Homo sapiens: one gene and its partner. The protein of the gene in region 2 purifies or fractionates together with the protein of the main gene of each other region. This does not show direct contact. Each region holds a gene or a part of one and is shown on either strand. Other genes may lie near its edges. The genes, in order: MPPED2 and COL9A2.

Region 1 (3,815 bases), on a different chromosome or scaffold from region 2:
TGCAAACAGTCCTATTCTAGTGAGCATTTAACTATTGGTATAGGGATATTGCTTATCACTTTTAGAGAGTGACACAGTCAGCCCCAGCAGGGAACAGTCATTCATTCTCTGGGAAAACTACTTTTCAAAGACAGGAAATGTTGCTAAGATTGTAAGCACCGAGACTGAGTGTAACCAAGTCTCAGTGATGGAAAGGAAGACATCAAACATTTTTACATCTAAAAAAGCAACATCGGCTATAATGAGGAGGGTTTCCAGGTTACTAATGAGATCACAGTGGATTAGTGAATTTTCTACGTGGTAACAGCATATTAATTTCTAACCTTTCTAACAGAAAAAATCCATTAATTTTTTGCGGAAGTTAAACTTTCTTTTTGGGCTTCCAATTAGACCCACTGTGATAACCAGTTCACAATTCCTTCCTCCCTACTCTCCTCCTTTCCTCCCTTCCTTCTTGCTCCTCTTACTTTCCTTCTCCGACACAGATAAGAGGAAATAAAAAGGTTAGTCATTGAAGAAATGTGGGACTATCCAGGTTGCACACTGATCTCTTCTATTTCCCTCACTGAAATTGTCATTGTTAAAACAGATTGTTTCTTTAAGAAAATAAATAAATAAAGGAAAAGAGAAAACAAATTAAACAAAGCCTGTAGAGGCAATATGTTTAGGGAGTCTTGTGTGGAGCTTTCAGTGTGTTCTCTGCTGCATGTTAACTATCAAGGGTTGGGGCTGGGATATGAAATATTGTTCCTTATTTAATGTTTCACACTCTAATCTCTGCATTGCATATTTGCTTCTCTTGTGACCTTCTCTTTGCATTTATAACTGCTTCTTTTCACCTATAATCCGAAAATAAGTGTACATTCCTACAGAGAAATTAAAGGAGGCTGTCAGTGTAGAGTTAATATAGTTAAAGCATCCTTAACTCTGCGACAAACCCCTTAAATAATTAAAACTGTATGCTTGAAGAGTCAGATTTGCATTCCTTTACCAAGTTTATTTAGTACACTTTGTTACACTCAATTAAATGAGGATGTTCTGTTTCATTTTCTTTGCTTTGGGTTGATCATTTTGCCTTTTGATTCTTATGCCCTGGTGTAATTTCACAGTGCTTAGGTCTCTAAAACTATACATATATTAACGTATATGTAGATATATACATCCCATTAAAAGGCTTAATATTTGTACTGAATAGAATCTTTGCCCAAGGCATTTGAGCATTCCTGGTAACCTCAGGTGTAACTGGGACTGCAGATAATTCATCGCAGTAAAAACGAGTTTGACAAAGTTCTTTTAACATCCAGTGTCTTTTTTTTTTTTTAATTTTTAAAGCTCTGTTATTTTGGCATCACCTTCTCTCCCTACGGTTTGATTTGTGAATAGCAAAAACCAGAAGATACAGGTGTTGAATGGTTGTGGAAAGGAAATTAAATATAAGTGCTATCTCTCCACATCTCAGTTGGCAGAGCATGTGCAGACTGCTCTCTGTAAATTAGTTCATTGCTTAAGTTATGCATGTTTAAGAAGGAATAAATTAGTTATCTATTTCCTAATGAGTAGTGGGATCAATTGGAGCATGATGAGAGAGAAATAGCATAATTTTGCTTCCCCAGTTGAGGTTCAGTATCCCTAAACTTCACCATTAATCACTCTATCAGTTTCCTGGGTTATTTCAGATCTATATGTAAGATATTCATTCCTTTTAATTTTCCTACCAGGTAAGTAAGTCCTTTTGAATTTGCCCAGTGGGTTTGTAAATGGGTGATGCTGTCTCTGTTACACCCAGAAGTGTCCTTAATTACAGTGGGCCCTTCTGCCTTTGCGTCAGTTTGTCTGGGTGCATTCACGAATAATAATAAATATGTATGTGCGACGACAATTTCAAGGGTTCTAATATGTTTAACTGTTATGGGATCTGTTATGTCTACTTTAGGGTCGACCCCATCCCATATGACACTCCAAAACCAGCGGGCCACACGCGGTTTGTCTGCATCTCAGACACACACTCCAGAACAGATGGTATCCAGATGCCTTATGGGGACATCCTTCTCCACACAGGCGATTTCACCGAGCTGGGACTGCCCTCAGAGGTTAAGAAGTTTAATGACTGGTTAGGTAAGGAATGATTGCGTTCTGGCGGCCCCAATTAACCTTTCCCGTCCGAGTGTCACTCACTGCGTCCTAATTGAATTAGAGCACTTGGAAGCCAGCTCAGCCATTTCTCGTATGATATGCGGTGGTGTCTAGCTTTAATCCAATTCTGTTAATTAAAGATGAATTTTTAGATATTTAATTTTACTGTGCATCCTTTCAGTGCCTGGCCTTGGTGGCTCTGGGGCAAAGGGATGGAAAGCTTTGAAACCCATCTCATCTCACTCATTCTGCTTTAATGAGGGCATTCATTGGCACACAGGAGACCTAGAATCATATTTTTAATTCATTGGCTCTGCAATCTTTTTTTCCCCAGATATTATAAGCAAAGATATACAAATGACCTACTAGTAAGAGAACATTTCTAAGAAATGAAGGGGTTATAAAAGTCCTTATATGAAACAAAATTCCTATAGCACAGTGCTGCTTGGGAGCGGATTTCCTAAGTGAGCTGGAGGGTGTTCTAGACCCCTGAAAACATGAGATATATTACTGTAAAGTAAAAACTTGGGATGTGAAGTTGCCCTGTGTCCTGTAAAAAGGATAATAGCAATTTTCTGGATATTGTGGAGGCACCCACAGGTCAGTTACTGCAAAATATTGGATCCTGGTTCCTCTTAGCGGAGGGAAAGAAGTGCAAATGTTCTGAGATTTTAGAATCCCTAAAGACGAAAGAATTATATAGTAAAGAGCAGACGTCACTCTGGGAGCGTAACATTGTCAATAATATGTCAGCCAACAAAAATAACTTGGGAGATTTAGGCAAAAACATTACAACTTTGTTTTCCATCAAACTAAAGCAGGGTTTGAAAATTTTTTAAATTTTCGATTAAATGATAAGACGTGTTAGTGGAAAGATGATATTTTAGAATTGTAAGCAATAAACTTAACTAATAACATAATTATTTTGATTTTTCATGTGACTTTGCTCATCTGTTCACATTTTGTATGGTTGACATCTGAGTACATATCTGCTTTTTGACTTTTGGCTGTTTTCATTTAATAGTATTTATTGGTAAGACTTAAAACGTTTTTGCATAATTTTCATATTCTTTTTAATAGCAGCATGGCATTCATATGGTTGGCTATGCCTTTCTTTAATAAGACATCTCTCTAAAAATGAGCATTTAAATTGATAACAATTTTTCCTCTGGTAGCTAGCACTGAAATGTGCATTTTTGTTTGTGTATGTCGTTTTGTTTCTATTGATTTATTTCTTAGGGAAAAATACTATACTTAATTTGCTAAGTCAAAGGATATGAAATTCTTTATGGTTTTTGCTACATGTTGGCATGTTGCTTTTCAAGGGCACTGTAGCTGTGTGTTTCACTAGCAGTGAATGAATGTATAGGTACTAGTTTTATCATGGTCTTGGCAGCATTGGATGTTGGAGCATTTATATTTTGTGCTGTTTTAGTAGGTACTTAATCATGTTATTTAAAATGGCAAGATATTTTAAATATTATTTAGCATAATCTCATTTTTACAGATGACACAGAGATGTAGAGAAGTTAAGTGATTTTTTCAGTTTCATAGTGGCAGAGTTGGTTCTAAATCCAGATCTTTTCGCTTATGTCTTTTTTCTCTACAATAATCTCTTTATTTTAGCAACTTTCATCCATGAACTATTAGCAGTTAAAATTATTGTTGGTAAATCTTGAGAG
Region 2 (3,815 bases):
GCCGGGAGGGGAGGACTCACCTGTCCCTTGGGCCCCGGCTCGCCGGACTCGCCCTGCAGGCACAAGGAGCAGCGGTCACGAAGCCGCGGGGACCCCGGGGCCAGCCGCCGCTCCCCGCCCTTCCCTAGGCCGCGCGCTCACCTTCTCGCCTTTCTCTCCGGGGAGGCCGGCCACCCCTGGGTCACCCTGCAGAGAGAACCACGGGTCAGACGCGCGGTGGCGGCGGGGACGCAGAGCAGGGTTGGGGGTCGCTGGGAACAGGGGTGCTGGAACTCACCACTTTGCCGCGGGGCCCGGTCTTCCCTGGGGAGCCCTGGAGAAAGCGGGCAGTGAGGGGTTTGGCGAGCTCCCCCCTCCACGGGGTCCCCCACCTAACTTTCGGCCACACCCCTCTTTCCAACTCCGCCTCGCCGACCAGACCAGAACCCTGAGATCCGCAGGTTTGGAGGCTCCGGAAGGATCTGAGTCCTGCCGACCCCACTCCCCCTGTTATAGGGCCCCTTTCCCAGGTGTTTCCCAGCCCCATCTGGCACCTTGTCTCCTTTGACGCCTGGCAAGCCTTGGGGCCCTGGAATTCCGGGGGGGCCCTGCTCCCCCTTAGGGCCCTGAGGAGAAAAGAAACCAAAGGAATAAATGGAATGAGGGGCCTGGATATGACGCCCTGCCCACCTTAGCTGGCCTGCACTCACCTGCCTTCCCTGAGGGCCTGGTTGCCCCACTGGACCCCTCTCGCCTTGGTCACCCTGAAATGGAAAGAGAAGGTCACAACCTCAGCAGCTCTCAGCAGGGGTAGCCTCCCGCACCGAGGCCTGGCACCGCATGGTCAGGGTGCCCTCCATTCCTGCTGTCACTGGCAGGGGGTCCTTTCTCCACTTGGCAGACCAGCAAAGCAAACCTAGGCCCTGCCTGGGGAGGCATCTCACGGGCTGCACGGAGCAGATGCTGTATCCAGCAGTGCCAGCTGCCGCAGAGGCCCCCGGGGAGGGGCCATTGTGCCAGGCACTTACCTTCTGTCCCATGATGCCCTGGGGACCAATTTCTCCTCGAGGCCCTGGCTCTCCCTGGAGGAAGGAGAAATTGGGGCTAAGCGTTTGACCTGGTGGAACCCACCCTTCCACACCTGGCCAGCCCCTCCCTACCCTGGGTCTCAGCTAATTTGCTTCATCAGGGAAGGTTTCCCAGACCACCTGTTCCATGGTTTTGGGTCCCTGTAGTTTTCTTTCAAAGGACCCAACACAATTTGAATTACTTATCATGTGATCATTTCTTTCTTTCTTTTTTTTTTTTTTTTTTTTTTTTGAGAGGGAGTCTTGCTCTGTCACCCAGGCTGGAATGCAGTGGCGCGATCTCCGCTCACTGCAAGCTCCGCCTCCCGGGTTCATGCCATTCTCCTGCCTCAGCCTCCAGAGTAGCTGGGACTACAGGTGCCTGCCACCGCCCCAGGCTAATTTTTTGTATTTTTAGTAGAGACGGGGTTTCACCGCGGTCTGGATCTCCTGACCTCGTGATCCACCCGCCTCAGCCTCCCAAAATGCTGGGATTACAGGCGTGAGCCACCGCGCCCGGCGTGATCATTTATTTCATGTCTATTTCTTCCATTAAACTATACCCTCCATATGAAGAGGAGACTCATAGTTGCAAGTGTTTAGTGAATGTTTATGCAATGAATAAATGAACGAACAACTCTGCCTGTTGGATTCCCAGCCCATCAACTTGGCCATCTAGGAAAGTCACACTCCAGAACAGAGCCAGTCCCCACCCTCCCTGCAATGTACATAGGGAAACAGGCCCAGGGAGGAGAAAGAGCTTCCCTGAATCATTGGGTCAGGGCAGAGCCAGACTAACTCGGAGCTCTCCCTAGGTTAGGGCTCCACCCCATGGCCTCACCCTAAAGCAGGAACCCTTGTGTCAGTGCAGGGGGCATTTACCTCTTTCCCAGGGGGACCAGAGAATCCAGGAAGGCCCTGCGGGCCCGGCTCACCCTGCAGGAAAACAGTTCTCAGGTCAGTCTGGGTGGCCCAGTCAGGCCCTTGGCCTCAGGGAAACCCAACGAAGCCTAAACAGAGCCTGGAACCAGATGAGCTGGGACGGGGGAGAGGGTATTCTTGGTTCAATCCTCTTGGCTCCTGATTTTCCTGTTTGTTTCTCCTCTGGATTTTAAGCCATGCCATCCTATCTGCACTGAGGCAGGCTGAGGAGTGCATGATGGGTGGGAGGTGGCAGGAGGGAGGTGGTTAGGCCCAAGGGGCTTATGTTCTGGCTGAGCCTCTGAGACTTGGCTGAGGCCTGGGCCTTGCTGTCTTCCTGGCCCCAGACTTCCTTGCTCAATTCTGTCCCCAGCTTGGGATCGCCTCACCTGGTCTCCAGGGCCTCCTTTTGTCCCAGGCTGGCCTGGCACACCCTGCAGAAAGAAGTTGAAGTCAGTTTCTGCCCTGGCATGAGGGAGCCCCATGCACCTGCTGCTTTGCTTCCCATCCCCAATCCAGATTTCCCCCACCTGTGGGAGCTGAACAACAGAAGGTCCAGCCACGGCATGATGAACTTAACTGTACATTCCCACAGTGGTGGCAGAGGAGTGGGGCACAGAGAATGGCCTGTCTTCCAGGACCTGGGGTCTACGTGGAAGAGATGGATATGTGCTCTCAGGTGCCTGAGCCCATGTGAGTGCACGCAGGAACACAAGTCTGCATGTGTGCACAGAAACAGGTTTGGCCACTCAGTACCCCCACAGGGAGGGAGGGCAGGCTCCCATGGACTGGACTCCAGGAGGTATGGAATGGAGATGGCCCTGAACGATAAGAAGGCACAAAGAGACCAGAAAGGGCATTTCAAACAGAGGGACCAGCAAAGGCCTAAAGGTGTGGAGGCAGAAAAGCCAAGGCCTGTTGAGAAGGGAAAGGACAGAGAGGGGCCATTGCTGATATGGCAGGAGGGGCAGGTTGGGGTCAGATTATGGTGGTCATTGAATGGTAAGATGAGCCATGAAGACAAAGATTGCATCTGTCCTATTTATAATTGTTTACCTGCCACTTAGTATACCTCAGATACTCAATAACTATTTTTTTTTTTTTTTTTTGAGATGGAGTCTTGCTCTGTTACCCAGGCTGGAGTGCAGTGGTGTAATCTTGGCTCAGTGCAACCTCCGCCTCCTGGGCTCAAGCAATTCTCCTGCCTCAGCCTCCTGAGTAGCTGAGATTACAGGCATGAGCCGCCACGCCCAGCTAATTTTTGTATTTTTAGTAGAGACGGGGTGTCACCACATTGGCCAGGCTGGTTTTGAACTCCTGACCTCAAGTGATCCACTCAGCTGAGCCTCCTGAAGTGCTGGGATTATAGGCATGAGCCACTGCACCCGACCTCAATAACTACTTATTGAAGGACTGGACTGAATGACTTTTTCCTGGAGGCGGTGGGGAGCCATGGAAGGTGCTATAGTGCAGAAATGGTCAGATCCCATTTAGCCAACATGGAGGACTGGAATGGCCAAAGAGAAGGCTAGAGTAATTGTCCAAGTAATGAAGCCTTCGCCAGGCCAGGGGCCACAGAGTTGGTAACAAGGCAAGAGGTGGTGATTGAGCAAGAGCCCCGGGTGTGTGTGGATTCTAACCTCATCAGCCACTAGCCCCTGGCCAGCCCCTGTGGCTCCACCTGACACTTACCGCTAGGCCCTGGTGGCCTGGACTTCCGGGCTGTCCCGCCTGTCCTGCACTGCCCTGGGATAGACAGATAACCAAAGATACAAATTAAAGCTCCAGCCAGAGGGCCATGGCTTCTACCCAGATGCAGGTAGGGAAACTGAGATCCAGAGGCAAGAA

Evidence for each region.
Region 1: the proteins of COL9A2 (region 2) and MPPED2 fractionate together in Homo sapiens (co-fractionation; one large-scale study listed by BioGRID). This does not show direct contact.

Annotation. Positions count from the first base shown.
Region 1 is NC_000011.10:30,534,294-30,538,108, reverse strand, and holds part of MPPED2 (metallophosphoesterase MPPED2), read left to right. Parts: intron 1-1,933; coding exon 1,934-2,115; intron 2,116-3,815. UniProt on the Homo sapiens protein: Displays low metallophosphoesterase activity (in vitro). May play a role in the development of the nervous system.
Region 2 is NC_000001.11:40,303,787-40,307,601, forward strand, and holds part of COL9A2 (collagen alpha-2(IX) chain precursor), read right to left. Parts: intron 3,714-3,815; coding exon 3,660-3,713; intron 2,616-3,659; coding exon of another isoform or gene 2,498-2,615; intron 2,402-2,497; coding exon 2,357-2,401; intron 1,983-2,356; coding exon 1,929-1,982; intron 1,062-1,928; coding exon 1,008-1,061; intron 744-1,007; coding exon 690-743; intron 606-689; coding exon 534-605; intron 314-533; coding exon 278-313; intron 187-277; coding exon 142-186; intron 54-141; coding exon 21-53; intron 1-20. UniProt on the Homo sapiens protein: Structural component of hyaline cartilage and vitreous of the eye.